7 separate regions of the Homo sapiens genome follow, and regions 1, 2, 4, 5, 6 and 7 are each linked to region 3. Evidence: fine-mapped expression QTL. A gene starts in region 3. Each other region holds a variant in brackets. All regions are shown on one strand. Distances are between the middles of the regions.

Region 1 (4,351 bases), 85 kb before region 3:
TACGCCGGTTTAGTTGCTTCCCACAGATCACACATGGTCTCGCCTGTCCGCAGGGTCCCCTCCCGGCCTCAAGCCCCTGCCAGGCAGCATCGGCCGCTGGTGACCTTGGGTCATCCTGGCCTCTATGCATTTAGAGTAGACGCCGGGTGGTGGCGGCGCCTGTAGTCCCGCATTCTGGGAGGCCCAGGCGGGGCGCTAGAGCCCAGGAGTTCTAGACCAGCCTGGGGAAAACAGCGAGACTCTGTCTCTTCAAAACAAAACAAAAACAAACAAACAAAAAAGGGTAGAGCCCATAGTACAGGATGAGAGAGTAGTGCCGTAATGAATTTTAAATTTTAATTACATTTAAAATTAAAATGAATCTATATACAATCACATTTCAAAAATTCAAAAAGTATGAAAAGGAACACATTCGAAAGGCTTCTATCCACCTCTGTTTTCCACTGTCCTCTTTCCCATCCCACCCATTCTCCCACCAGGCTTAGTTTCTTGTGTTTCTTTATGCAAAATAAACAAAAGCAAATATATATATTTTTTCCTGCTCTCATATAAAAGGCAGCACAGTATCCACACTGTTCTGAACTCTTTTTTTTTTTTTTTGAGACAGGGTCTCACTCTGTTCCCCAGACTGGAGTGCAGTGGCACAATCTCAACTCACTGCAGCCTCCACCTCCTGGGTTCAGGCTATTCTCCTGCCTCATCTGGACCACAGGCGCACACCACCATGCCCGGCTAATTTTGTATTATTATTTTTTTCGAGATGGAGTCTTGCTCTGTCGCCCACAGATGGAGTGCAATGGTGCGATCTCGGCTCACTGCAACCCCTGCCTCCCGGGTTCAAGCAATTATCCTGCCTCAGCCCCCCGAGTAGCTGGGATTACAGGTGTGCGCCACCACACCTGGCTAATTTTTGTATTTTTAGTAGGGACGGGGTTTCACCATGTTGACTAGGCTGGTCTTGAACTCCTGACCTCATGATCTGCCCACCTCGGCCTCCCAAAGTGCTGGGATTACAGGCGTGAGCCACCACGCCCTCCCTAATTTTTTTATTTTTATTTTTTATTTTTTTGAGATGAAGTCTTTGCTCTTGTCACCCAGGCTGGAGTGCAATGGCACCATCTTGGCTCACTGCAACCTCTGCCTTCCAGGTTCAAGCAATTCTCCTGCCTCAGCCTCCCAAGTAGCTGGGATTACAAATGCACACCACCACGCCCGGCTAATTTTTGTATTTTTAGTAGGCCAGGCTGGTCTCGAACTCCTGACCTCAGGTGATCCAGCCACCTCCCAAAGTGCTGGGATTATAGGCATGAGCCAACGTGCCCAGCGAATTTTTGTATTTTAGTAGAGACGGGGTCTCACCATGTTGTCCAGGCTGGTCTTGAACTCCTGACCTCAAGTGATCTGCCTGCCTCAGCCTCCCAAAGTGCCGGGATTACAGGCCTGAGCCACTGCGCCCCGCCTGGATCTCAAGTCTTGATAAGATTTAGGATTGATTCTTTCAGCAGGACTACTTAACAGGTGGTGTGCCTTCCAATTTGCATCCCAACCGTATTAGGGTTCTCCAGAGAGACAGAACCTATAGCATGCAGGTAGGTAGGTAGGTAGATAGATAGATAGATAGATAGATAGATAGATAGATAGATAGATAGATAGATAGAGATAGGAGACAGACAGATAGATGAGAAGGGATTTATTAGGTGAATTGGCTCCACGTGATTATGGAGGCCTGAGAAGTCCTACGACAGGCCGCCTGGAGACCTGGGGCTGCTGGGAGCATGGCTCAGTTCAAATCTGAAAGCCTCTGAACCAGGGGAGCTGAAGGTGTGACTCAGTCTGAGACTGAAGGCCTGAGAACCTGGGGGGCTGCTGGTGCAAGTCCCAGCATCTAAAGGTCAAGACCCTTAGACTTCTGATGTCCAAGGGCAGGAGAAGAAGGCTGTCCCAGCTCCAGGAGAGAGACAGCAAATTTGCCCTTCCTCTGCCTTTTTGTCCTACCGAGGCTCCCAGCTGATTGGATGGTACCCTCCCATATTGACAGGGCGTCTTCCCCACTCAGCCTACCAACTCATACGCCAGTCTCCTCTGGAAGCAGCCTCACAAGACACTGCTTTACCAGCTATCTAGGTGTCCCTCAATCCAGTCAAGTTGACTCCAAAAAGTAACCATCAAATACAATGAAGTGCAGCCAGTCAAAGGCTGGGACCCATCCATGGCTGGAGCCACAGGGGCAGCAGCCAGTGGGGTCACTTGGAGTCAGGGCATGGGGAGACAGCATCAGGCAGTGGCTCCATCTGCTCAGCCCACCCGTAAGCCTGGGCTCTGGAGGGCAACTGACTCCCCCAGGAGCCTTCCCTCTGCCTATCCCTGGAGTTCCCTCCCCTCCTATGGGAGTCTGGGGGCCTTCAGGAGCTGATCCCCTTGCCTGCATGCCAGTCTCCCTAGGAAGGATCTTGCAGAATGAGCCCAGGTTCAGCTCAGAGACTCTCTGGTGCCAGCTGCCCCTTCTCAGGGTCGGTGGCAGGAGAGTGTGAGGGCTGAGCTAAGTGCATCAATGCCCCGTTTGCCCCTAGGATTCGGAAGAGGCC[A/G]TGGCAGGAGCTGTATTTGGAGGGTCCAGGCACTGCCCTGACTGGGAAGTGCAGTGCAGCCTAGGGATGGGCCAGGGAGCTCACAATGACAAGAGGGCAGAGAGCAGGGAGTCTATCTGCCCTCCTGGGGAACAGCCACCAGGTACCAAGCAGGGAGGCTAGCAGCCCAGCCCAGGGACTTGCGTGGACTTCGCATGCTTCCCACATGCTTAGAACTCTGTCAGGGGCCAGGCACGCTGGCTCCAGCCTGTAATCCCAGCAGTTTGGGAGGCCAAAGCAGGTGGATCACCTGAGGTTAGGAGTTCAAGACCAGCTTGGCCAACTTGGTGAAACCCCATCTCTACAAAAATTAGCCAGGCATGATGGTGGGAGACTGTAATCCCAGCTACTCCAGAGGCTGAAGGGGGAGAATCACTTGAACCCGGGAGGCGGAGGTTGCTCTGAGGCGAGATTGTGCCATTGCACTCCAGCCTGGGCAACAGAGTGAGACTCCGTCTCAAAAAAAAAACAGAACAAAACAAAACACAAAACAAACAAAAAAAGAACTCTGTCAGACTGGGTGCAGTGGTTCATACTCTTGTAATCCCAGCACTTTGGGAAGCCAAGGCGGGTGGATTGCTTGTGCTCAGGAGTTTGAGACCAGCTTGGGCAACACGTCGAAACCCCATATCTGCCAAAAAATACAAAATTTAGCTGGGTGTGGTGGGGAGGCTGAGGTAGGAGGATTGCTTGAGCCCAGGAGGTCGGGGCTGCAGTGAGTCGAGACTGAGTGACTGCACTCCAGCCTGGGCAACAGAAGGAGACCCAGTCTCTAAAAAAAAAAAAAAAGAAAGAAAGAAAAAGAAAAGAAAAAGAACTCTGTCTACTGATGTTTCTGATGTTTCCTTCCTCCCTCCTCTTCATCTCTGTTGGGTTTTAAAATTTCCTTGATCAAGCTTCTCTTGCCTTTCCTTTTCTTTCTTTCTTTCTAGCTTCTCCTTTCTCCTATTCCCTCCTCTCCTCTCCTTTTTATTGCCCCTTTCCCACAAGAAACCAGCCTGTCTTCAACGTGGATACAGTGGACTGGGCAGAAGGAGCCAGCCTGGCGCAACTGGCCCTGGGGGCAACTCAGAGCCTGAATCTCTAGTGCTCTCTCCTCTGCCTGCACTTGGAGCCATGACCCAGCCTGACCCTCCACAGGGACCGTGCCAAGGGCTCTGTCCCTTGCCAGCATTTCAGGCGCTTTGGGCCAGCTGGCCTCTTTTGGGCCAGAGTTCCCTGGAGCAAGTGACGATGGGCGGGGAGAGGATGGTACTGACACAGGAAGGGAACAGGGGGACATGGCAAAGGCAGAAGCTGGGCAGGACTGGGGATGGGAGCACCCCATCAGGAGCACTGGGCTGAGGAGCGGTGTCTGTTTGGCCAGGAAGCTCCCTGAGTTACTTTTTCCTTTTTTTTTTTCTGTTGAGACGGAGTCTCACTCTGTTGCCCAGGCTGGAGTGCAGTGGCGCGACCTCGGCTCACTGCAAGCTCCACCTCCCGGGTTCACACCATTCTCCTGCCTCAGCCTCCCGAGTAGTTGGGACTACAGGTGCCTGCCACCACGCCCGGCTAATTTTTTGTATTTTTAGTAGAGACGGGGTTTCACCGTGTTAGCCAGGATGGTCTCGATCTCCTGACCTTGTGATCTGCCCGCCTCGGCCTCCCAAAGTGCTGGGATTACAGGCGTGAGCCACCGTGCCCGGCCTCCCTGAGTTACTTTCTTCTATACATGGGTCAGGATGTTG
Region 2 (4,351 bases), 26 kb after region 3:
CATTTGTTCCATAGACACCTGATGTTTATACAATGCCCTGTGCAATAGAGATGGAGGATTCAATGGTGAATGACAGGTGATTTTTCTCTGCAGGTGGCTATCTTAGCCACTCCAAGACTTTAACTATCTCTGTGAACATCAATCACAAATCTCCAGCTACAGACTCAAGCTCCTTCCCCAAATCTATTTCCTATATTAGGGGTTAGGCAACCTTTGCAAACGTTAAGATGCAGACGGTTAGACCTGCAGCCCCAAGAGGAGCTGAGGTAATGCTTCTCTTTGCCAGGAGGGGTGCATGACATCACCTGACCCATTGAAGCAGTGGGCACCGTGGGGGTCAGGGGATGCTAACAGGCACAGCTGGCCCTCCTCACCCATGGATTTCACATCTGTGGGTTCTGGATTCAACTGGGGATTCAACCACCTGGGGTAAAAATATTTGAAAAATATTGTGGCTTTACTGTGAAGGGGTGGTCTGCCCCTCCCTAGAAATACCTGTGGGTATTTCTAGTCGGGTGGGATGAGGGACTGAGAAAAGAAATAAGACACAGGGACAAAGTATAGAGAAACAACAGTGGGTCCAGGGGACCAGTATTCAGCACACCAAGGACCTGCACTGGCACCGGCCTTTGAGTTCCCTCAGTTTTTATTGACTATTATTTTCATTATTTCAGCAAAAAGGAATGTAGTAGGACAGCAGGGTGATAATAAGGAGAAGGTCAGCAAAAAACATGTGAGCAAAAGAATCTGTGTCATGATTAAGTTCAAGGGAAGGTACTATGCCCGGATGTGCATGTAGGCCAGATTTATGTTTCTCTCCACCCAAACATCTCAGCGGAGTAAAGAATAACAAGGCAGCATTGCTGCAAACATGTCTCGCCTCCCACCATAGGGCGGTTTTTCTCCTATCTCAGAATTGAACAAATGTACAATCGGGTTTTATACCGAGACATTCAGTTCCCAGGGGCAGGCAGGAGACAGTGGCCTTCCTCTATCTCAACTGCAAGAGGCTTTCCTCTTTTACTAATCCACCTCAGCACAGACCCTTTATGGGTGTCGGGCTGGGGCACAGTCAGGTCTTTCTCATCCCACGAGGCCATATTTCAGACTATCACATGGGGAGAAACCTTGGACAATACCCCACTTTCAAGGGCAGAGGTCCCTGCGGCTTTCCGCAGTGCACTGTGCTCCTGTTTTATTGAGACTAGAGAATGGCGATGACCTTTACCAAGTATACTGCTTGTAAACATTTTGTTAACAAGGCATATCCTGCACAGCCCTAGATCCCTTAAACCTTGATTTTATACAACACATATTTTTGTGAGCTCCAGGTTGGGTCAAAGTGGCTAAGGCAAAGTGGCTGGGGCAAAGCTACAAATTAACAACATCTCAGCAAAGCAACTGTTTAAAGTACAGGTCTTTTTCAAAATGGAATCTCTTATGTCTTCCCTTTCTACATAGACACAGTGACAGTCTGATCTCTCTTTCTTTTTCCTACGTACTGAACATGTACAAAATTTTCTTCTTGTCATTATTCCCTAGACAACTACTGACACAGCATTTACATTGAATTAGGTATCAGAAGTAATCTAGAGCTGATTGAAAGTGCATGCAGTGTGTACATAGGTTGTCTGCAAATGCTGCGCTGTTCTCTATCAGGGGCTTGGGCACCTGCAATGTTGGTATCTTCAAGGGAGGTTCCTGGAACCAATCCCCTACGGATACCGAGGAATGACAGTATTTGGGTTTTGATAGAAAGCTGAGAAACCCAGAACAGAGATAACCTCCTAGCAGTAGAAAGCTGAGTTAAAATCAGGAGAAGGCAGTGGCTAAATTCACAGTCATTTTACACACAAGAGCAAAACACATGTTTTACAACAATGGAGGAAAAACTCAGTGATCGCCCACTGAAGTGAATAAAAGTTACAGTGATAGTTACAACAACACAGCAATAGGGTATACTGAGAAGGAAGATGTCCTTCAAGAGTTTAGGGTTTTGTTGGGGGAGCCAGAGCCTCTCTCAGGATGCACCCTCCTTTGGAAGCACTGACTTGGCCCCTGGGCCCATGACATGGGAATAGCATGTGAGCCGGCCGAGTCCCAGCAACCCCTCAATTCAGTTTGTCTCCTTAGACAGCATCCACCTCCCCAATCCTCCATCAGCTCCTTTTCCAGTTTCCCCCATCCTGCACTTGTGCAAGGCAGGGAGGGAGTTGTCTGTGCTTAGGACAATTCCTCACATTGCCAGGAGAGGGCAGCAGATCACTCTCCCATCCCAGTTGCTGCCTTGGCGCTGTCCAGGATTCCAGTCATTTTTCAAGGGTTATTGAGAGCTTATGGAATAGGAGACCATTCCAGCCTCAGTTTCGGCCAGGCACTGGGAATGCAAAGCCGACTGAGATATGGGGTCCCGCTCTGCAGGAGCCCGTGGTCTAAGAAGGCAAGGCAGCCATGGAAACAGAAACAGGTCTAAAGAGTGGGGTGAGGCACTGGGGCAGAAGGCTCTTCAGGGGACTGTGGGGTCCCCATGAGGTGGCGAGA[G/C]GGGGGGCATCGGAAAACACCCAGCAGGAAGAGGTGCTAGAGCTGAGTCTTGGAAGCAGGTAAGTTTTCCCAGTTCCTAGGCCAGGCAAGGCACCCCAGGCAGAGGAGCTGGGCCTCCCGTGACACCACAGGGCGGGCTTGGGCTCAAACACAGGGTGCTGGGGCAGGAGGAACATCTCAGGGAGGGGAGGATCATGGAGGGCTGTCCTCCCTGGCCATGCTAAGGAATCTGTACCAGGACCCAAAGGGAACCGGGAAGCCACTGAAGGGTTTAGGAGAAGGACCAAAGCAGACCTGCACTTTTACATGACAGCTTCCTGTTCTGCCTGTGGAGGATGGACATGGCAGGATGGAGAAGGGAAGGCCTGAAGGCCACTGGCCAGGTCAGCTTGGCTTGAACTGGGTAGGAGAGCGACGGTGGTGGTCTGAACTAAGGCAGGAGCAGTGGGAGTGGAAAGCGGGGTGGGCGTGAGGTTGAAATGACAGGTCTTTGGCTGGATGGGGGCTGGGCCGGATGAGGGCAGAGGTCTTTCAACTTTCTGGCTTTAGTGGCTGGAGTGAGTGCTGGTGGCAGCTGATGAGACAAAGAACACAGGGGAGGAAGACATCTCTGGAGAAAGACTATGAGTCGTTGACAAATATGGGGCATCACCCAGTCCCCCATTTCATTCCCACTATACCCCCTAATCTAGATCCTTGCTATTTTTCATCAGTTCTGAAATACTGGCTTCTTGTTGGGTCTCACAAGGTCCAGTCTCTCTGTTGGAGGTGCCTGGGAATTCTATATTTCAATACGTGCTTATGAACAACCTGTCTGGGGCAGGCACTGTGATGAGTTCCTTCTCCTACAGAGCTTATGGCCTAGTGCAGAGCGAAGGTAGTGAAGGAAGAGACAGACGGTGAAGCTCATGGTTGAAGTCCAGTGTGCAGCACGGTCTCATGAGTCTTCGAACAGGCTGCAAGGAGAGCATTCCAGGTGGGGCCTGCGATCTGGACTTCGGAGTGTCGAGGAGGTTTCCTAAAGGAATGCCATCTGGGCTCAACTGGATGTGCAGGGGCTCCCTGGTGAGGGGGTCGGGTGGCAGCAGGCCAGGGCTGGGGAGAGGGGCTCCTGTGGGGCTGGAAGGGGTGGGTGCAGTGCCTGACCCTGTGGCGGAGGACATGAGAAGCAGGCAGCCTCCACTTGAGAGGACACTGGGGGTGGTCAGCAAGGATAACAGTGGCAGGGCCTGATAGGGTTAGCTTGCACCAAGCTGAGTGGGGAATGAGTTGTGCCAGGCCTCCTGTGGGTGGATGGATCCTCAGGCTTGGAGGGGTGTCCTTCTGAAGGAGACTTCCTAGTCTCTGACAGATTTGGGAATCTGTCAGATTCCCTCTCTCTGGGAAGAGGCTACAAACTCTAGGCTGGGCATGGGCAAACTGCAGCCAAGTTTTGTTTTACCAGAACACGGCCATGCTTCTTCACGGATGTGTTGTCCATTGTTGCTTTAGTGAGTTGAGTAGTTGCAAGAGACCACATGTTCTGCAAAGCCTCAAACATTTCCTAACTGGCTCTTCATGGAAAAGGTTTGCTAACCCCTGCTATAAACTGGCAGGCAGCTTTCTTGAATAGAGTTCAGGCCTGGTCTGCATGTGCTGAGACAGTGAGCCCATATCCTAAAGTTGGATCTCCCAAAATGCACGTCCGTCTCAGGTCTTATGAATCTGTGAGTCACTGAGCATGTGAAAATGCATATGGTCATGTTTCAATGTGCACATGGTGATGTGTGAACATGCATATGATTGTGCATTAGCATGCATGTGGCCACGT
Region 3 (4,325 bases):
AATTCCGTACACTTAGCAGTTGTGCAAGCAGCTTTGCTAGACAGTTCCCTAACTTCAAGCCTTGTTCCTCCCGTAGATGGGTTAGGTCTCTGGATATTAGGGTCCCCAGAGTATTTATTTATAGTTCCAGTTCCCAGTATGGCGCCCTGTACTCTGCAGGCACCTGACCAATGGCTGTCAACCCAGGCGCACCAACCCTCCATATCAGAACGCTTCATACACAGCCTGCAGGAGGGACTAGCAGGGCAGAGGGACCTGCTTTGCCCAATAGTGGAAGTCACAGGACATTTCTCAACATCATTCACGATAAAAACATCTTTTTTTTTTTTTCTGCGACATAGTCACTCACCCTCCACCTTCTTTCGGTAAATCCTCCATAAAACTACATAAGGAGAAATATCCCTTTGTTTTACATCCTCTGACTCAGATACTGAGCATTATTCCTTGGGGTCAGCGGTGGAGGTGGAGGTGGAGGTGGAGGGGAGGAAAGATCCCCTCGGGGATGCGGGGAAGAGGAGAGTATATTGTGGAGGGGCACGGCGTTTTGCTCTTTTTTTGTTTTTTTCCTTAAGATGGTCCTGGCTCACAGAAAGGCCACTACCCGGCAGGCGGGTGGGTCACTTCCTGTGGGCGCAGCGGGGCTACGACTTGACAGCTACAAACGTTCGACCCTCCGACTGCGCTCTCACCGGGTTCCCAGACCCAGGTGGTGGTAGTCGGGGGTGGGAGTGGCGGGAAGGGCGCCGTCTTAAGAACCATCTGCCCATCCTCAGGGCTTCGCGCCTCTGGGGAGGTGGCCCTCAGCCGCCCTCGGCAGAGCTCTCCCCGAAACATGGTGCCGCGTCTCAGCGCTCCGGCCCCCGCGTGGCTCTACGACAGCGGGGTCCCTCTGGGGGCCGCGGGTGAGGGACTCCACCTTCCGCACGGACGACGTGGGCTCGCCCGGCTCCGTCGGCGGCATGAAGGGCACGGCTTGAGGGAAGCTCCCGAGGGCGCGATGGGCCTCCCGAGGGCCGACCGTGCCCCGCCGGGGTACGTGAGGGGCGCAAGGCGTGGAGCTGGGTCCAGACCCGTCCTGGCTCCTCCCCGGGCCCCTTCTCCACAGCCCCTTTCTATCAGCCCTGGCCGCCCCTCCGGCCTGGCCCAGCGCCGCGCCCTCCTTCCCCGAACTCCGCGGCCCGGGCGGAGGTGTCACTCCCGCCTCCAGTCACGACGGCGGGCCAGGTTGTGCAACACGCGCCGCGCGATGTGCCACCCACCCCCCCCGTATTCCACACCGCAACTCCCACCGCTCCGAGGGTCCTCCCCAGGCGCCGCGATATCTGTGCCCAAGGCTCTGAGCCCCTCTAAGCCCGCGGCGCGGACTTCCTGCCTCCCCAGCCCGGGCGCGTAGTCCCGACCGTCCGGCCCTCCGCGACCTTGCCCCGCGTCCGCAGCATCCTGGCGGCTACCGCTCCCCACGTCGAGTCTCACCGGCTGGGAGCAGACCAGCGCCCGGTGGTCCAGGAGTCGCAGGGAGGCGCCACCCGGGGCCAGCACGCCCAGGAGCAGCAGGAGCAGCCCCAGCAGGGGCCCCGGGACAGCGGACGGCGGGCTGCGTGCGGCCCCCATGGCCCGGCTGGCGTCGCGGAGGGCTCGGCCCCGGCTGGGGACGCAGCGAACGAACGTTCTGAGGCTTTCTTTTCCGCGGTGGAGTTCGAGTCGGCTCCACTTTGCTCGCTTCCGGCTTCCAGCCCGGGCCCAGGGGCGGGCCGGGCCGAGGGGAGGAGTTTAGTCTGGGACGGGGAGGGGTTTAGGGTGAGACAGGGCCCTCCCCCCGTTCCTCCTTGCGCCCCTCCTCTCGGCCCTACGCTCAGTCCTCCGGGCGTCCCTACCCAGTCCTTCCGGCGTCCCTCCCCGGCCCTCCTCCGCCCGCGCGCCCCAGGTGCGCTCCTCCCGCTGCTCCTGGGCCTGGCCCGTCGCGCCTCCAGTTGCACCCGCGTCGGGCTAGCGTCAACTCCAGCTGGAGCCTCGCCTGCCCCACATGCACCCTCCACCCTGGCCGTGCCGCAGCAACTGTCGATTTTAATCCTCCGCCCCCACTCACTTGATTCTTGGCCCTGTTCAGACTTCTTGCTTCTCTTGTGGGTCACTGGACGTGAAATCCCAACTTGGGATTTCAGGAAGTCCGTTTTCTTAGTCTCTGTCCCTTTTATTTTTGTTTTTTATTTTACTTTATTTTTAGACAGGGTCTCCCTCTGTCTCCCAGGCTGGAGTGCAGTGGTGCAACCGCAGCTCACTGCAGCTTCGGCCTCCCGGGCTCAAGCGATCCTCCTGCCTCTGCCTCCTGAGTAGATGGAAGCGCGGGCCATATCCCATTTTATTGTCCCCACCCCTTTGCCTGGTTCTGCTCGCTCTGCTTTCCTTGGCTTTGCTTTCTCTTTCTCAAGACAAGGACAGCTCCGGGCTCCAGGGAGGATGGGACAGCAGTCACTTCCAGCCTCCTGGCTCGGACTCGGGGACACTTGAGTTCCTGGAGGGCAGGCAACTTACCTGGTCTGTGAGACTGTGTCCCAGCCGCACCTAAGAGAGTCGTTACTTCCCAGAGGCTCACTCCACGGCCGCGGAAGCTGTCGCCAGCGAATTACACATTTCATGAGTCTCCTTCTTAGCACGCGTGCAGCCTGCGTCCTCTCCTCTCCGGACCCTGGAGGACCCTCCCAAGCCGGCCCGCGCTGCCTCTATCCTAGGTTCCTGCTTCGAGCCCGTCCTGCCCTAGTGCATCCACACGCTCCTGCCCATTCGCCTCTCCTCTCTTCCTCCCAAGACCACCACCGTCCGCTTTTCCTTGCCTATCAAGTGCGCCTCTGCCTGGCCTTGACACGCACGGAGTCTACACTCAAGTGGCTTTTCCCTGTATTTTCCACTGCCCTCGAGAGGTGGGTTTTTTCGCTGCCCGAAGCACCCGCTGACCCCCAGCGACATCTCTATGAGCCCCGCCCGCAGACACGACCCAGCTGAATGAAGCCTGAAGCTCAGTGGCCTTCAAATTGTCTGTTTCTAAAAGAATTTTGGAAAACTGCATCCTCTCATGCATTTTAAAGATGACATCTAAAATTCTCCATCCTAAGTCTAAATAGATGTAGAGGATGTAACTGTTACTTAAAAATCAGCGGTTGTCGTAGGCAGCTTCTAAGATGTGTTCTAGGATCCCACCCCCTGGGAGTCACGACCTTCTGAATCCTCCTCGCGGAGTGTGGGATGGACCCAGAGGCTTGGTTCTAACAATAGAATATGAATAGAAGAAGACAAAAATGATGGGATGTCACTTACAAGATTAAGTTACAAAAAGATCCTGACTTCTGTCTTGCCCAGCCCCTCCCTCTGAGCTCCTAGCTCTTAGGGAAGCCATGCTGGGGCCCAAGTGGCAGAGAATGAGAAAGGCCTCTGCCCAGTGCAAGACACTGAGATCTTCATTTCATCATTGCCATTATTAGTACATAATTGATAAAAAATAATGTAAATATAATACATGTTAATAAGTAATTAAACATGAATTACTTGAAATTCATTTTATTCCTAATTAGTTGATGTATCTGTGAACAAATATTGCTTATTCATAGAACAAAGCAACATTCAGCATTTAAGAAATATTTTATTTTTCTTCTTTTTTTTTTTTTCTTTTTGAGATGGAGTCTTGCTCTGTCATCCAGGCCGGAGTGCAGTGGCGTGATCTCGGCTCACTGCAAGCTCCGCCTCCCGGGTTCAGTCCATTCTCCTGCCTCAGCCTCCCGAGTAGCTGGGACTACAGGCACCTGCCACCACGCCCGGCTAATTTTTTGTATTTTTAGTAGAGACGGGGTTTCACCGTGTTAGCCAGGATGGTCTTGATCTCCTGACCTCATGATCCGCCCGCCTCGGCCTCCCAAAGTGCTAGGATTACAGGCGTGAGCCACCATTTTTCTTCTTTTTAAAACATTGAGACAGGGTCTCACTATGTTACCCAGGCTGGTCTTGAATTCCTGGGCTCAAGTCATCCTCCTGCCTCAGCTTCCCAAAGTACTAGGATTACAGGCACGAGCTACCACCCCAGGCTAAAAATATTTTAGATGTAAGCCTTAAAAAATTGCTTACATAAATAATTATATTTGTCTCATCAATTCTTTGAACCCGTTTTCAGTCATATGCAAAGATCACATAGCCATCTTGTCACCTTTTTTTTTTTTTAAATAGGGTCTCACTAAACGGCCCAGGCTAGACTCAAACTCCAGGGCTCAAGAGGTCCTCTCATCTCAGCCTCCCAAGTAGCTGGGATTACAGGTTTGCACCACTGTGCCCAGTCAAAT
Region 4 (4,351 bases), 41 kb after region 3:
TGCACAGTGTCTTATTATGTCTTCAAGACACTCTTGAATTTCATTTTGATTGATTCTTCTGTATGCAGGGGTTAGGGAGGTGCACCAAAACCTGGGATCAGGGCATTGTAGACATGGCTCTATTCAAATTGGGCTGAGGGTCCTGTCACCAATGCATGAAAGACTGTCTGGGCAAGCAAGATCCCAGGAGGCATATGAGGATGACAACAGCCAGCCTGGCATCAGTCACACCTACCCAGAGGCATTGATAGTGTCATGACTCCTCCCCAGGAACCAGATGTAGCCCTCTTCATCCACAGTTGCTCTGTCCCCGGTGTCGCAGACGTCCCCACATTCCACTTCGGCTGTGTTCTCTGGGTTACCCTACAAAGGGGAGAGAACTTCTTTGTTGAAGGCAGTGAATTTAGAGATGATGAGCCACAACCTCGGGTTCCAATCTGGGTTTCAATTCTGCCTCTGGTTCTACCTGGTACCTGGGCAAATTTTGCCATCTCTCTGAGTCTATTTTCATTACACGTAGGCACACGATGCATGCTACTGTTCTATGAGTGGTCGTGATTATACCAATTTCAATGACAAATTAAAAAATATCAATTCGCTTTTATGTGACACTATACTAGAATAAAATTTCTATTATAGTGTGAACTTTGTTCCCTGCTGTAAGCTCAGCATTCACACAGTGTCTGGACAGATGAGAGGGGTCAATAAACATTTGCTGAGTGAATTTTCTTCCCTAAATACTATCTCATTTGATCCTCACAGAGAGCCTATGAGGGTGGTATTTTTAAAGTTAACTTTTCATTTTAAGATAATTGTGGACTTGCATGCAGTTATAAAAAATAATACAGATTGATGCCCCTGTACTCTTTAGTAGTTTTCCATAGTGGCAACATCTTGCAAACTATAGTTCAGTATCTCAGCCAGAATCCTGATGTTGATACAATCCACCAATCTTCAGATCTCCCGTTTCACTTGTACCTGTGTGTGTGTATGGGTGTATTTATTTTTATGCAGTTTTATCACATATATAGGTTTGTGCATTCACCAGCACATCAGGAAGATCTCTGATGTTGCTCTTTTATAACCATATCCACCTCCTTTTTCTTCTCTTTTCCTCTCCTCTCCCCATCCCTAACCCCTTGCTAACAACTACTCTGTTCTCTATTTTTATAATTTTGTTGTTTCAAGCGTGTTATATAAATATAATTTAATAGTGTACAACTGTTTGGGATTGTTGGTTTTTTTTAGCATAATTCTCTAGAGACTCATCCAAGTTGTGTGCATCAATGGTTTGATCCTTTTTATTGCAGAACAGTATTCCATGTTGTGGGTGTACCTCAGTTTTTGTTTAACCATTTACCTACTGAAAGGCATCTCTAGGCCTTTCAAAACCTGGGTTGTCTCCAGGTTTTGGTTATTTTGAGTAAAGCTGCTATGTACATTTGCATACATGTTTTTGTGTGAAGCTGGCACTTTTTTGTAGCCCATTTTAAATAAGAAAAACTTCATGCTCAGAGAGGCACATTCACTTCCTCAAAGTCACTCAGCTGCTCACTGAGAGGGTTGGTATTTAAATTTAATTCTTGCTTCACAACCTATTCACTTGAACCATAAGCAATATCTCTTGTGGAACATGAAATGGTTTTAAGAGCTATCTGAAAAATCATTTTAAAAACATTGAATCACCTCCCTTTTTGGATTCACTTCCAATTATTCTGAGTATATCAGGTTGACTCTTAGTTTAGTGCTGACATGCTTTGAACTCTCTGGAAGTCCCAAGAGGAAGATACACTTCAGGATCAGAGCTTTCAATGGGAATAGGATTTAGGTAGAATATGAGAAAATTGTTTGTTTTTTTAAAAAAACCTATAGTTATAATTGCCTTCTGTTTATGGCAAGTAATACTGTTTTCCACTTGTGATACTAGATCAACGTGAGTGCCTTTGTGGACTAAGTTGGTAGGCACAAGATTACATCAACAATATAAATGGAAGACTGTACATGAGTAGAGTTTTTTTTTGTTTGTTTGTTGTTTTTTGAGACAGAGTCTCACTCTGTCACCCAGGCTGGAGTGCAGTGGTGAGATCTTGGTTCACTGAAACCTGGGTTCAATCCTGGGTTCAATCCTGGTTTCAAGTGATTCTCCTGCCCCAGCCTCCTGAGTAGCGGGGATTACAGGCGCATGCCACCACGCCTGGCTAATTTTTGTATTTTTAATAGCAATGGGGTTTCACCATGTTGGCCAGGCTGGTCTTGAGCCCTTGACCTCAGGTGATTCGCCCACCTTGGCCTCCCAAAGTGCTGGGATTATAGGTATAAGCCACCATAAGTTTTTGTATGCAATTGAAGTTAAGTAGGTATTAATTCAAATTAGATTGTTACAACCTTAGGATGTTGTATGTAATATTCATAGTAACTA[T/AT]GAAGAAAATATTTATAGAATATAAACAAAAGGAAATGAGAGGGGAACAAAATATGTCACTACAAAAAACAAACAAACAAAAAAACAGAATACTAAACATAGGCCAGTTGCAGTGGCTCACGCCTGTAATCCTAGCACTTTGGGAGGCCGAGGCGGGCAGATCACCAGAGGTTGAGAGTTCGAGATCAGCCTGGCTAACAGGTGAAACCCTGTTTCTACTAAATACATAAAATTAGCTGGGTATGGTACTGTGCGTCTGTAATCCCAGCTACTTGGGAGGCTGAGGCAGGAGAATCACTTGAACGCAGGAGGCGGAGATTGCAGTGAGCTGGGATCGTGCCACTGCACTCTAGCCTGGGTGACAGAGTGAGACTTGGTCTTGGGGAAAAAAAAGAAACTAAACATAAAAGAAGGCAGTTATAAAGGAAATGAGGGCCAGAAAATATTAAGCCATACGAAAGACAAATAACAAAATGGCAGAGGTCCTTTCTTATCAATAGTTAAGTGGAGTAAACTCTCCAGTCCAAAGGCAGGAATTGGCTAAATGAATAATAAAACATGATCCAAATATGCACTGTCTACAAGAGCCTCATTTTAGATTTAAAGACATGAATAGGTTGAAAGTTAGAGGTTGCAAAATATATTCCCCACAAATAGTAACCAAAAGAGAGCTTGGGTTGTTATACTAATATCAGACAAAATAAACTTTACGTCAAAAACAATTGCAAAAGATAAAGAAGGATATTATATATTAATAGAAGGGTCAGTTCATCAAGGAAATATAATAATCATAAACATATATGCAATAAACTTCAGAGCTCCAAAATACATGAAGCAAACATTGACAGAATTTCAGGAAGAAATATACAGTTCTACAAAATAGTTGGAGACTTTAATACGGCACTTTTTTTTTTTTTTTTTGAGACAAAGTCTTGCTCTGTCATCCAGGCTGGAGTGCGATGGTGTCATCTTGGCTCACTGCAACCTCTGCCTCCCAGGTTCAAGTGATTCTCCTGCCTCAGCCTCCTAAGTAGCTGGGATTACAGGTGCCTGCCACCATGTCTGGCTATTTTTTTTGTATTTTTAGTAGAGATAGAGTTTTGCCTTGTTGGCCAGGCTGGTCTTGAACTCCTGATATCAGGTGATCCACCCACCTTGGCCTCCCAAAGCGCTAGGATTACAGGTGTGAGCCACTGAGCCCGGCTCTAATATGCCACTTTTAACAGTGAGTAGAAAAACTAGACTGAAGATCCCCAAGAAAATAAAGAACTTGAACAACATCATAAACCAATTGGACTTAGCAGACATATATAGAACACTCCATCCAATGGCAGAAGAACACACATTTTTCTCAAGTGCACATGGAACATTCTCAAGGATGGACCATATATTAGGCCAGAGGAGAAGAATTAATCAACTTTAAAAGACAGAAATTATATAAGGCATATATCCAGTCATATGAAATGAATTAACAGAAGAAAACTTTTTAAAAAATCACAAATTTTTCCAATGTTTGAAAAATTAGACCAGGTATGGTGGCTCACACCTGTAATCCCAGCACTTTGGGAGGCCGAGGCAGGCAGATCACTTGAGGTTGGGAGTTCGGGACCAGCCTGGCCAACATGGTGAAACCCCGTCTCTATTAAAAATACAAAAATTAGCTGGGCATGGTGGCAGGCACCTGTAATCCCAGCTACTTGGGAGGCTGAGGCAGGAGAATTGCTTGAACCTGGGAGTCAGAGGGAGGTTGCAGTGAGCAGAAATCGCACCACTGCCCTCCAGCCTGGGTGACAGAGTGATACCCTGTCTCAAAAAGAAAAAAAAAAAAAAGAAAAATTAAACGACATACTCGTAACTAACCAATGGATCAAAAAAGAAATCACAAGGGAAGTTAGAAATTATCTTGAGATAAAAGAAATAAAAAACATAACA
Region 5 (4,313 bases), 27 kb before region 3:
CTGTAATACAGCCTGGTGACAGAGAGACCCTGACTTAAAAACAAACAAAAAACCAAAACACAACAAAAGCAAGAAAGAAGTATATCCATCATACCCTTGCATTCAGAGATCCCAGCTCAAACTGCTGAATGGATGTTTCAGAGACCGAACACCACCCTTTTTAGACCCTAAACACCTTCAAGGACCTTCCTATGCAGAAAAGAGAAACTGGTTTTGAATCAAAGTAATTATTCCTTAAAAAAAAAAAAAACAAAAAAAAAACTAGGATCAAGATAGTAGGCAGGAAAAAGTCATGAAACTCTACGCGGGAGTTGGGAGCTTGTTGGTGGCTGCGTGCATAATCGGCCTGGACACAGGCATGGTTAGATGCTCCGCTGCTTCTTTCCCAACCGGAACCACCTCTGCACACTCAGGAGACGAGCTGAAGAGGTGGGAGGGGCACAGCGTGGAGGGCACCTGTTCTTAGAGAGACATTTCTTGGTGAAACAATTTATTAGCCATGGTTCAGAATAATACAAAAATAAAGGTGTGGCTTTATTTACACACACTCTTGAAGCTCTTGGCATTCAGCGGACAGCAAACACCATACTCAGAGTGATGGAATTAATAGCATTTAGGGTAAGCAAGGACCAGTGTGAGACTGGGCCCAGGAAATGGGGAGGGAATGTGAGGAGAAACAGGGAATGACATTAAAGAAGAAACAGACACCTTGGAGAATTTATGACTCCTTTCTCTATGTCATGTCCAGAAGAGGCAAGTCTACAGAGATCAAAGTAGCCTAGGGGTGCCTAGGGATGGGGAGGTTGGGGTGGTGACTAAGGGGGGCTGGATTTCTTTTGGGGGTAGTAAACTCTAAGACTGACTGTGCTGATGGCTGCTGAACTGTGACTATACTAAACCGGCATCAAATTGTGCAGGGTCAATTGTGGATTGTATGGTAAGTGAACTGTACTCCAATAAAGCTGTTAGGAGGACAAAGGCAGCTGCCCTGGAGATAGTAGGCAATGCCCATCAGGACATTTACTGGCATGGGCTCAAAGGCCAGCAGAGCTAGAATTCAAGGTTCCTGAGGAATGGGAGCAGATGGGAACATGTGCTCTACGCAGGAAGAGTGCATTGTGGTATCCTGTACTCTGGGCGTCAAACAGTTATTTATTGGAAGCTAGGGAAAGGTCACAGAATGCATGGTAGGTGTCCAGACCCAACGAAGCCCCTCTCCAGGATTATTGGAGAGACTGAGCCCAAAAGGCTAGTGGCTGGGAGGCTTCTGCTCCTGTTCTCCTTTGCCTGGTCCTTTGCTGCTGTTGGGTGGATTATGGGCCATACACCATCTGGGACACAGAGCTTTGGTGGCCCTGCTACCACTAGGTAAAGTCTAACTGCAAGAAAAAACTCCGCAACTAGCAACTTCTTGACCTACAGTAAGTGGCTCGACCTTCCTGCTAGAAACTCTTACCAGATCAACAAATTTATGCACTTTTATTGATAATCTTTCACGCACATGTATGTGTGCGCACACACACATGCAAACTGTCCTGTTTGCTCTCCTGTCACATTTCCGAATCTTCTCCTCCTCACTGGAGGTTGGAAATATAGTTAAGGACTCAGGCATAGGAATGAAGGGCACCCTATTCCAGTGTCAGACGGCACCTCAATGTGTTCTTCAGGACCCTGAAGCCAGAAGCCTCTAGCCTACCCCCAGGAGGTACTTCAGGAACAAATTCTTCAAACACTGGCTTCAGAGCCTCTTTTCAAATGCTGTCTTTGGACCTCAGACCCTGAAGTCACAGCAGCACCCCTTCCCCACACAAGGTCTGCCCAGATCTTCACTGACCCACCACCCCTCATTTCCTTGCCCTTGCACCCTGGGGCTTCCTGAGCTCAGGGGAGCTCCAGCCCAGCTGCTCTGAAGAATCCTACGTGCTAACAGCTCCCCACTGATAGTCGGAACGCGGGTGCAGGGCTTCAGACTCACCTTCCTGCCAGATGCTTTTACGTTTCACCTCGACATTTCTCTCTTCCTATAAATGAACTCAGGTGACATCCAGCTGTGTTTAGCCCTCAGCCTCTCTCCATGCAGAGGCTCATCAGACGAAAGGTGCCCCAGGCCTCAGGACTGATGCGCACAAGGCTGTCCCCACCCCTGAGCTCTGGCGACATCCCCCCA[C/A]CCCCCACCCCGATCTCTCTCACTGCCTCCCTCCTTCCCCTCCAGGCTCCACCAGCAGCTCCCTGACAAGCTCACTCCACTCACCTCCCAGCACTTACCCACAAACTGCTTCCTTGCTGGGACTACGCTTTCCCCAACCACAATCCTTCAGCTCAGGCATCTCCTCGGGGATCCCCCCTGACCTGGGTGCCTTTCCCGTGCATGCTCACAACCCTGGGCAGGCTTCCACTCCATCTTTCTACTTTTTTATTTTTTTTGAGACAGGGTCTCACTCTGCTGCCCAGGCTGGATTGCAATGGTACCATTATAGCTCACTGCAGCCTCTACCTCCTGGGCTCAAGTGATCATCTGGCATCAGCCTCCCGAGTAGCTGGGACTACAGGCATGTGCCACCATGACTGACTAAAAAAAAATTTAGGTAGAGATGAGGTCTCACTATGTCGCCCAGGCTGGTCTTGAACTCCTGAGCTCAAGCAATCCACCTGCCTCGCCTTCCCAAAGTGCTGGGATTACAAGCATGAGCCACTGCACCTGGCCCATTCAGCGTTTACATCCCGCGTGACCATCTTTTTTTTTTTTTTTTTTTGAGATAGAGTCTCGCTCTGTCATCCAGGCTGCAGTGCAATGGCACAATCTCGGCTCACTGCAACCTCTGCCTCCCAGATTCAAGCAATTCTCCTGCCTCAGCCTCCCAAGTAGCTAGGACTACAGGCATGTGTCACCATGCCCGGCTAATTTTTCTATTTTTAGTGGAGATGGGGTTTCACCATGTTGGCCAGGCTGGCTCAAACTCCTGACCTCAGAGTGATCCACCTGCCTCGGCCTCCCAGTGTGCTGGGATTACAGGCGTGAGCCACCGTGCCCGGCCCATCCTGTTCGTTTAACGTGTCCTCGGCACTAGCGGTTAAGTTCCTTCATGGCTGGGGCCATGCCGCATGCAATTTATCTTGGTATCCCAAATGCCCGCCACATAGTAGGTGCACAATAAATGCTGAATGAACGAATAATGGAGCCTCAAGGACGCTCTACCATTAGCTCCTGGGAGCGGGCTGTGTGGATTCCCCTGGGGATAGACGATAACCAGACCGCTGCACAAAGAAAAGTTAGGAGGGATGCCTGGGATTAAAATCCAGACATTTACATTTTAAAGCCTACATTTCACACACGAACATATACACATGCAGACATGTACACACAGATGAATACGTGCACACACACTCCTCTCTCAAAGCTGGGATCTGGGCGGTCCCTGGGGAGCCGCCCTCATGCACTGGGCCCCTCTGACTCTGACCCCATCGTGTCCCAGCCCGAGTTCTTCTGCAGCTGGCGGAAAAGCAGCTGCCGCTGGAGGCTCCTCAGGCTCTCCAGGTCCTCGGGAGAGAGTGGCAGGGCCGGCTTCCCTGGGTCCTGCTCCTCTTCCTCCTCTTCCTCCATTTCCGTGAGTCCCTCGGGGGGCTGCGGGGAGCTCCTGGAGATGTAGCCCTGGTCAGACTGCACTGACTGCCGCTGCTCCTCCTCGTAGGGCGTGTGTGGGTCTGTGAGGACCATGGCGGGTCTACTGCAGCCCCCCTGGGCCTGGCAGCTCAGACTCTGCTCGAAGAGCGAGAGCATCAAGCCTTCGAGGTGCTCCCTCACGTCCTCTGGAAGGAGGTCAGGAGACGCCATGGGGGTGCTGCTGCCAAGGGGCGAGTCCTCGGGGTCCACGGGGAGGAAGAGGACGCTATTTCGCCCAGCGCCCGGGCTGCCCAGCAGCGGGCAGGCCTCGCCCTCCCCCGCCAGTGCCAGCCGGACTGCGGCACCGTCAGCCAGGGGCCCAGGCTCCACCGCGGCCACCAGGGCCCCCTCCTCTGCGGCGAGCACCAGGGTGTGGAGGGGCTGCGGCGCTGGCTGACCCCGGGGCTGCAGGTGAGGTTCCAGCTTTGCCACTGCTGCTCCTCCTTCCTCCCCGACCAGCGGGTCTATGGCCAGGCAGGCCTGGGAGCCAGGCTCGCGCACCAGGGGCGCCCGCTTCACGATGCCGGTTCCCGGAGGCAGCAGTGGCTCCTCAAACACCTCTTCGTCCAGGGACGGGGCATCCTGGTCATCTGCTGAGTAGAGGTTCTCACATTCGAACCAGTCGGGACAGCGGACCTGCCAGTCCCGGAAC
Region 6 (4,351 bases), 48 kb after region 3:
AACCTCATTGACAATTAAATGCTTTGTTACTGATGCATATTTTCTAATATGGGTGACCACAATGACACGCATAAAACGCAAAAAAAAAAAAACAACATATGGGACTACATCAACGTGAAAAGTTTCTGCATAGCAAAGAAAACTACTTTCCAAATAAAAAAGCATCCTATAGATTACGCAAAAATTTCAGGCAATCATGTAATTCACGAGGAGTTGTCAACTAACGTGTACACAAAAAACACTACAAAGTAGAAAAAGAATCCAATCTAATATTTCGCAAAGAACCTGAACGGACAATTCTGCACAGATATAAAATCGAACAACAGATAAGAGATAAGGTCCTCAAAATTAACTATTCATTAGAATACTGTAATTCAAAACCACACGCAGATAATCTCACAGTTATTGAATATTCCTAGAAAAAATTTTTCAAAATAAGAGGGGCTGGGAGCCGTGGCTCACGCCTGTAATCCCAGCACTTTGGGAGGCCGAGGCGGGCGGATCACCTGAGGTCACGAGTTTCAGACCAGCCTGACAAATATCGTGAAACCCCGTCTCTACTAAAAATAAAAATACAAAAATTAGCCAGGCGTGGTGGCGGGCGCCTGTAGTCCCAGCTACACAGGAGGCTGAGACAGGAGAATTGCTTGAAACCGGGAGGTGGAGGTTGCAGTGAGCCGAGATGGCGCCACTGCCCTCCAGCCTTGGAGACAGAGCGAGACTCCGTCTCAAAAAAACAAAAACAAATTGGAATGGGGGTTTGGTTTTGGAGAAAGGGGAACTCATACACTGTAGGTGGAAATGAAAATTAGGGTACACACCATGGAAAACAGCTAAATAGCTGGAAACTCCTCAAAGAACTGAAACTACAGATGTCCCCTGCTCTAGCGAGGTCTCTTTCTAAAGGTCCCGAGGCATAAAAAATAACCCTAGGCCCCAGCTCAGAGGCCCGTGGGGCTCGGAGGGACCCAGTCCAGCGCTTCACCGCCGCCTCTGGGCCAGGGCGCTCCTATAGGCTGGACGCGGGTCGGACAGGGGCATAGCCTTCCCGGCGGGGGTGTGGACGCTGCCGAGGCCAGGATCCCACAACCGCCCCGACGCTGACGACTCGGGCCCAGATGCCCACTTAGAAGTCAGGGCCCGAAAGCAGGGAGCGGCCGAGAAGGAGTAGGGAGACCCAGAGGGTTCCAGGTGGGGTTCATCCCCCTCCACTTACCGCCGAGGCCTGCCACCTCCTCCACCAACAAACGGAAGCCACCACATCTTCTCCGAGACTCGCTCTGACCACGCCGCCGATGCTGCCCGGGCCTCGCACGAAGCGCAGTCTCGGCTTCCGTCGGGGCCTGCATGCTGGCAGCGTCCCTGGCGCCAGGCTGAAGCACCACCCCCTCTTAAAGGGGCCGCGGCTGGGACTGGGCAGAAGCAGCTTCGGGTTGCACAGGCTGAGCGTCTGCCCAGCCCCAGGGGTGGACGAAAGGCCCCCAGTCTCTCATCCTCCCGGGCTCTAGGGCCCTAGAGGTCGCAGAAGCGCCTCCTGTGACCCCAGCCCCTAAATCGGCTCCCTTTGCCTGAGGAGCGCCCGGGACCTGCCCCTGCCCTCCTCGGGACCTCAGCTTCACCATCCGCAAAGAAAGCGGCCTGGCTGGAGCTCTGGGGTCCCTCAAGCTCGGCGCCTCAGGATCCAGGGTGGGCTCCCCTGCCCCTCTGCAGAGGGGGCCCAATAACCACGGAAAGCTGGGGGCTGGAGGGACAGTCCCGAGGGCAGCAGGGCGTCCTTGGCCTCACCGTCTACATTCGTCCTGTGGGAGCCCGGGGGCGTCGCTAGGGCCCAGACTCCTGCGGCCTCACCAGGGCTGCCTGGGTCACCGGGCTCCCCAGGAGGCAGGCAGGGGCCCTAGGGTCCAGCGCTGCCCCCACCTCAACTCCATTCTGCGTCAGCATCCGCGAGGGGGTCCTGCGGACTGGACCCAGACCCACTCCTTCCCGGGGAGCGGGACCGGTATCGGTCTCTGTGACACCCACGGGAGGGGCCGTGCTGACCTCTCCCGGGGATCTGGGGGCGGGGTGGGGGAATCTCGGCCACCTCTTGAAGCTCGCTGAGCCCCCCACCCCAGAGAGCGCGCAGGAGCAAAGGAAAGGACGGAGAGCCCAC[A/G]CATTTTCAATCTTTCATTTCCGTTTTTTCTTTTTTCCCCCCTCCAAAATGAAAGACATGTGTAGCTTTGTCCCCTGTACACGATCCATTCCCCAGGGCCGCTGTGCGGATCCAGCCCGCTGGTTGCCTCTAGGGTCCGCATGCGGCCCGGGGCCTGCCCAGGTGAGGTCTGCGGCCGCCACAGCGCTGAGGTCCCGCCTGGCCGGGGAGCACGAGCCGCTGGGGATGCTGGCTGCGAGGCTCCCGGGAGGTGGAGCGGGAGGTTGCCCCAGGCCCTGGCTGCAGAGCTCTTGATGTCACGCCTGGCACCCTCCGTCCACCGCCTCGGGGCAGCGCTTCAGAGCCCCGGCAGAGGCAAGAAGTCGATCACTTCGTTCTTCATTCGTTGGAAAAATTTAAAAGCACATTATAATCCCTGGAACAACCACGTCAGAGATAGAGCAAAAAATTAAAATAGGATTGTAAATGACACACTGAAATAAGTTTATTTTAAAAATGGTAGTCAATGGAAAAACAGGATCAGAAGACAGGAGAGACAGGGAAAACAAATAAGTTATCTGACTGAAACAGAATTAGAAACTAACAACAGTAAGAAATATTGGACATCTGAAAATATGTGAAAATTTAACAACCCACCTCTAAATCATTGGATCAAAAAAAAATCACAAGATAAATTGGAAAATATTTTGAGCTGCACTCCAGTTTGGGTAACAGACTGAGACCCTGTTTCTAAGAAAACAAAACAAACTTCAAAAAGCTATAAAATTAAATGCCAACTTTCCCCTTTACCCAAACTCTCTGTGGCTCTCCTTTGCCCTCAGAGTCAAGCCCATGCTTCTCACTGTGGGCTCCAGGAGCTAGGTGGCCTGACCAGTGCACACCCTATCACCATCTCCTCCTCTGCCCACTTGATCACGCTGTCCAGTCACACACACTCTTTATTTTTCCAAATGCCAAGCTCCTGATCACCGCTGGGCCTTTGCCACCGCAGTTCTGCCTGCCAGGACCAGTCTTTCCCTAGACCTTCCCATTCCTGCCTCTTCCTGGCTTGGCTGCCTCTTTCCGGTGCTTCAGGTCTCAGATCAAATGTCACCTCTTCAGAGAGGATTTCCTTGAAATCTCTGCCTAACACAGCCTGTATCAAGGTCAACACTTTTCTCTTTTTAGACTTACGTTTTGATATAAAGAAGTTTCATAAAAATGACTTGGGCAGCTATCATCTGTTTAAAAGGTCTGACTTTGTTGAAATAATTTGGGCTTTCCTGTTCTTTGAGTTTTGATAAAACAACTGTAAAATCATCTGCCTTTTTTTAAAAAAATTGAGATTGATGCATACTTTCTGTTATTACTATTTTTTTTACATTCTGTCTCCCAGGCTGGAACACAGTTGCTCATAGCTCATTGCAGCCTCAAATTACCTTGCCTTTGTAACAGTAGGTCCTCAGTCACCTTTCTCATCTACAGATGTTGGTTTACTTAAGCTTTCTAATTACTTGGAGGTCAGCTTAGCTCAGTGGTTAGCACAAGTTGCTAATAAATGCTCAAGTATGAGGGTGCAAAGAAAGGGGTAGGGAGGTGCAAGACTCTTGGCTTCAAATGCCCAGTCCCCTACTCATCTGCTCAGGCCCCTGTCTAGCCTCTGCATCTAAGCCAAACTACACGCCTCCTCCCCTGAGAAGCCCTCTTGGATTTCTCCTGTCCTGTCTTCCCTGCTCTATCCTCCGATGAGTGGATCCACCCATCTGCCTCTGTGCTGGGCAGATGCCACTGCTCTCTGCTTTCTGGCTGGACAAGGCAAGGGGGCAGGTGTGTGTGTAGAAGTCCCCCTAAACCTTGGCCTTTGCCTCATGCCTGGCACATTCAACCTTTGCTGACACCTCCGCAGAAATACCAACCTCACCAACATCTGCAGAATGGGCCGCCAGGGTCTGTCTGGAGCTTGGGTGGGATTTTCACTTGACTACAAATACACACACACACCCTAGGCTTCCGGGTCTGCATTCCTTGGCTGGCTCTTCACACTTGAGTCCAAGACAGGTCAATGGTTAGTGGCTGGATTTGCAAGCATGTGTGTTTCTGGGCAGGATATCAGCTGGGGCAGTCTGAGAGGAAGCTGTCAAGGGAAGCTAAAGAGGAGGGAGTCAGTCACGTCTCTCTTCACCTGTTGCACTCTCTAAATTTTACTGTCCACTCCTAGGC
Region 7 (4,000 bases), 21 kb before region 3:
AGGCGACCCACGCACTTATCCCAGGAGAACCCTCCACTGCTTTAAAAATAAGCAAACATGCAAACCAGGAAATACTGACCGGTGTATTTGGTGTCATCACTGTATTTTTCACTTCCAGGCCCTGGAAAGGAAAAGAAATACACTGGAGTGGTTCTTTGGGAAGAGAAATAGAAACCAGCTCACAGGGTGTCTGCCCCATCCCTGACAAAGGGTGAAGGGTAAGGGGGCAGCCCCGAGACTGAGCAGCGAGGCCGTGCTAGGTGGTCGCACAGGCATGAGTCCTGGGTCTGCCACTACGAGCACTATGACCTGGAGCAGTTACTAGTGCCTCTGAAATGCAGCTTCTTCCTCTGTGAGGTGGGTCTGTATTTGCTCTTGTTTAATGGGTATTAAATGAGTGTGTGTATGTGACGTGCCTGGCACGTTGTACATAATCAATTGGGATCACAGTTATTTTGTAGCACTGATCCAGCTGGGACCCCCAGTGCCGGGGGGCAGGGGGTGGTGTCCATTCTGGTTCCTCATTACGGTCCTGGTCTGCCCTGTCTCCCTGAAATTTGGCCACCCCAAACTGACTCCACATGAGGAAAAGCTCTTCCCCAGAAGTGTCTTTACAGAAGACATGCATCTTACCACACTTCTTTCCAGAAGCAGCCCCACCAGGCTGCTTGCAACATTTCCTCCTGGTATTTTTGAGGTGAGGAAGGGGAACCCACATACTTAAGCAATTGTTCCCCTCAGAGATGTGATGAAAAAACTGCTCTGCGGGGGTTAACTCCTTAGTGACAGCTGGGAGGATTGAGATCCACAGATGACTGAGCAAACGACTTAGAACCTTAATCTCAATCCTAACCCTTTCAGCTCTTCCCCAGAACTGTCACAAGACAGCCAAATAACAGCGAGGCTCCTCTTGCCTTCACCCTGTGGTGCAGGACACTTCGGAAAACAGAAGCGCAACAGCAGAAAGGAAACCAAAAGCGCCGCCGCCGCCCAGCCCCAAACCTTTAGAGAGCTGCACCGCCTGTGGAGCACTGGCCGAGATGCTACTGAATGTTATTGGAACCTCCCATAGGTCCTCCCATGCCTGGCTGGTTTTCTTTCTACCACATAATAATTAATAATGATTAACACCTAATCCTGACGAGCCTAGGGAAGGGTGGAAACAGCTTCCCAGATGACGGAAGGAGCAGCCTAGGGTCATGGTGGGGCAGGCAAGGGCTGAAGCCCCAACCGGAAGGCCTGTGTTCTCCCGGCTTAGGACTTGGCCAGCAGAGGGCTGCAGGTGGGAGAAGACACTGGTATGTACTAATCCCCACCAGCAAGCACCTTCCTCAGCTACTCATTTAACCTTCGTCACACCCTTAGAGGGAGGCATTATCAGTACATTTTACAGAAAAGTGAATCCATGGTGTATTAAGTAACTGGCCTGTGACTACAAGGCTAATGAGGTGGGGCTGGGGTCCACCCCTGTGGCTCAGGGCAGCCGGAGCCTTCTCTATCACCCGATGCTGACCCTCACTATTCTCCCTGACCCCAGGCGTCCACGTCTGGCGGCTGCAGGATGGGGTTGTTCAGGCTGCTCCACCTGCCTGGATGATCATTCCTGACACAGGGAAACTTTACTCCGGCTCCTTCCAAACTATTGATTTTAATAATACTACATTTGATAACAACAAATATAATCGTGGCTAACAGATACTGTGCAAATAGCACATGCCAGGTTCTGTGCTAAGAATTCATGTGTCTTATTTCACTCAGTCCTTACAACAGCTTTATGACGTGGTTCTCAAGCAAGAAGCTGAGGCTCTGAGAATAAAGCGATTTGCCTTGGTAGTGAGTGGTGGTGCTGGTATTAGAGCCTGACTCCAGGACAGCCAGAGCCCCAGCGCTTACCAGCTAGCCTCCAGGTCATGCAGACGATGAGCAGGATGACGGAGCCCACCAGCAGGATGGAGATGCCCGTGATGAACCAGTACACCCACAGGGGCATGTAGTCTGCGGTGAGCAGAACAGCGTGAGTGATGCGGCGGGGCCTGCCCTGCCCACCCTGAGGCCCCCAGCCCTGCTCCCCAGCCCCAGGCTCTGTCCTCTCTGGCCCCACCACGACAAACCATGGTCTCACCCCCCACCCCGGGCTGGCCTCGGTTCAGCCTT[G/C]TCTGCCTGGCTGAGGCAGGGACTTCTCAAGTGGCCACTGGGGAATGTCCCCTGAGGGCTGCAGTGCTGTCGGAGAGAGATCCAAGCTTACCCGGAATTGGTTCTGCAATGAGAACAGAGGAAAAAGGGAAAATAGCATTCTTAACCCTTCCCAGTCATCACAAGAAACACAACTGACGTCCCTTGAGGGCTTTAATGATGTTGGCCCTGCACCAGGCACTCTAGATCCAGGTTGAACTTAATGAAACCATCTACAAGAGACACTTGAGTTGCTGGTCTAAGAAGAGACACCTTGCCTCCTCCTTGGGAGGCTGGGTTCTCCTTCCAGCCTGGCTCCATGCCTGCGCCTTGCCTTCTGGTGAGCACGTGGCTGCAGCCTCCCGTGCATTAGGGCATGCGACTTTTGAAAACAGCGTCCCTGCTGTGTGATCTTGGACAAGTTATTCAACATCTCTGTGCCTCAGTTTCCTTATCCAGGAACCTGGGGTTTGGGGTGGGGGGATCCTCTACTGCATAGTACCGTGACTCACAATGAGTGAGGATGAAAAAATGGACGGCATGTTGGAGCACTGCGCTCAGTGCATGGCACAGAACTAGGGCTCTAGGATAAAAACCACCTCATTTTCCAGTCAAGGAAGTTGAGAATCAAAAAGATTAAGTAATTTGCCTAAGGCTACATAGCTAATGAAAGACAGCCAGGAGTCCAGCCCCAGGGAGTGACACTCTAAAGCCCCACTCCACACTTCAGGCCTGAAGGACTCCAAGTTAAACTAAACTCTCCTCCCTAATCACCCCTCAGAACCAGGTAAGGACGCAGCACAGGCTGGGGGCCTTCAGCCACTTGTTCTCCCAGTATGGCCTAGGACAGCCGCATGTCCCCTACCTGGAGTGTCTGGCATTTCTGGGCAGGAAACAGTCGCGGAGTGTCTGAGGCAGTCATTGAGGCAGCTGCTGAAGAAGGGCTGGATCTGCGGGCAGAGAGGGCAGGAAAAGGGCTCCAGAACTGTAGAGCGCCCATGCCTTCCAGCCAGCAGCGGCAATGTGAGAGGAGGGGATCCTGGCTGGCTACACCACGATCTCCAGGTGACCATCATCTCCCTCCAGCAAGGGCGGGTCAGCGAACCCCTGCCCAGGTGAGGGTGGGAGAACCAGACAGGAGAAAGGCAGGGGCAGTGCCTTACCAGGCAAGGAATCCTGACTGGTAGTGGTGCTTGGTGCCACAGAGAGGACAAGCTTTCCCCTGTCCACCAGCAAGAATGCCAGACTGTGCACGCTCCCCACTCCCGTCCACACCACACTCTCCACCTGTGCACGCTCCCCACTCCCAGCCACACCACTCTCTCCACCTGTGCACGCTCCCCACTCCCAGCCACACCACTCTCTCCACCTGTGCACGCTCCCCACTCCAGCCACACCACACTCTCCACCTGTGCACGCTCCCCACTCCCAGCCACACCACACTCTCCACCTGTGCACGCTCCCCACTCCCAGCCACACCACTCTCTCCACCTGTGCACGCTCCCCACTCCCAGCCACACCACTCTCTCCACCTGTGCACGCTCCCCACTCCCAGCCACACCTCTCCACCTGTGCACGCTCCCCACTCCCAGCCACACCACTCTCCCCACCTGTGCACGCTCCCCACTCCCAGCCACACCACACTCTCCACCTGTGCACGCTCCCCACTCCCAGCCACACCACTCTCTCCACCTGTGCACGCTCCCCACTCCCAGCCACACCACACTCTCCACCTGTGCACGCTCCCCACTCTCAGCCACACCACTCTCTCCACCTGTGCACGCTCCCCACTCCCAGCCACACCACTCTCTCCACCTGTGCACGTTCC

The links. PIP is the estimated chance that this variant, and not a neighbour inherited with it, causes the effect.
Region 1: its variant is fine-mapped to the expression of IL17RA in tibial artery (GTEx, PIP above 0.99).
Region 2: its variant is fine-mapped to the expression of IL17RA in cerebellum (GTEx, PIP above 0.99).
Region 4: its variant is fine-mapped to the expression of IL17RA in prefrontal cortex (BrainSeq, PIP 0.95).
Region 5: its variant is fine-mapped to the expression of IL17RA in whole blood (INTERVAL, PIP above 0.99).
Region 6: its variant is fine-mapped to the expression of IL17RA in anterior cingulate cortex (GTEx, PIP 0.98).
Region 7: its variant is fine-mapped to the expression of IL17RA in whole blood (INTERVAL, PIP above 0.99). The same link has a PIP of 0.9 or more in esophagus mucosa.

Annotation. Positions count from the first base shown.
Region 1 is chr22:17,167,119-17,171,469 of GRCh38, reverse strand. No RefSeq gene overlaps it. Among named protein-coding and RNA genes, the nearest start is that of HDHD5-AS1, 9.9 kb to the right of the region's middle. RefSeq lists an enhancer at 1-305. The variant A/G (reference allele first, on the strand shown) is at 2,586.
Region 2 is chr22:17,056,281-17,060,631 of GRCh38, reverse strand. CECR7 (cat eye syndrome chromosome region, candidate 7) reads right to left here. Exons shown (of 4, transcript NR_152826.1): 4 at 562-3,115. Among named protein-coding and RNA genes, the nearest start is that of CECR7, 22 kb to the right of the region's middle. RefSeq lists enhancers at 2,103-2,603, 3,608-3,777. The variant G/C (reference allele first, on the strand shown) is at 2,542.
Region 3 is chr22:17,082,378-17,086,702 of GRCh38, reverse strand. It overlaps IL17RA (interleukin 17 receptor A), which reads right to left and starts at 1,703. Exons shown (of 13, transcript NM_014339.7): 1 at 1,474-1,703. The coding sequence starts at 1,611. RefSeq lists silencers at 921-1,170, 1,211-1,310, 1,561-1,680, 1,701-1,920 and an enhancer at 2,474-2,643.
Region 4 is chr22:17,040,885-17,045,235 of GRCh38, reverse strand. It overlaps CECR7 (cat eye syndrome chromosome region, candidate 7), which reads right to left. Exons shown (of 4, transcript NR_152826.1): 2 at 236-363. Among named protein-coding and RNA genes, the nearest start is that of CECR7, 6.5 kb to the right of the region's middle. The variant T/AT (reference allele first, on the strand shown) is at 2,420.
Region 5 is chr22:17,108,938-17,113,250 of GRCh38, reverse strand. IL17RA (interleukin 17 receptor A) reads right to left here. Exons shown (of 13, transcript NM_014339.7): 13 at 1-4,313. The coding sequence ends at 3,431. Among named protein-coding and RNA genes, the nearest start is that of TMEM121B, 10 kb to the left of the region's middle. The variant C/A (reference allele first, on the strand shown) is at 2,168.
Region 6 is chr22:17,034,210-17,038,560 of GRCh38, reverse strand. It overlaps CECR7 (cat eye syndrome chromosome region, candidate 7), which reads right to left and starts at 1,991. Exons shown (of 4, transcript NR_152826.1): 1 at 1,217-1,991. RefSeq lists enhancers at 460-619, 630-679 and a silencer at 2,343-2,452. The variant A/G (reference allele first, on the strand shown) is at 2,153.
Region 7 is chr22:17,103,848-17,107,847 of GRCh38, reverse strand. It overlaps IL17RA (interleukin 17 receptor A), which reads right to left. Exons shown (of 13, transcript NM_014339.7): 9 at 3,038-3,122; 10 at 2,246-2,257; 11 at 1,894-1,995; 12 at 80-121. Among named protein-coding and RNA genes, the nearest start is that of TMEM121B, 16 kb to the left of the region's middle. RefSeq lists enhancers at 1-891, 849-1,068 and a silencer at 1,838-2,038. The variant G/C (reference allele first, on the strand shown) is at 2,155.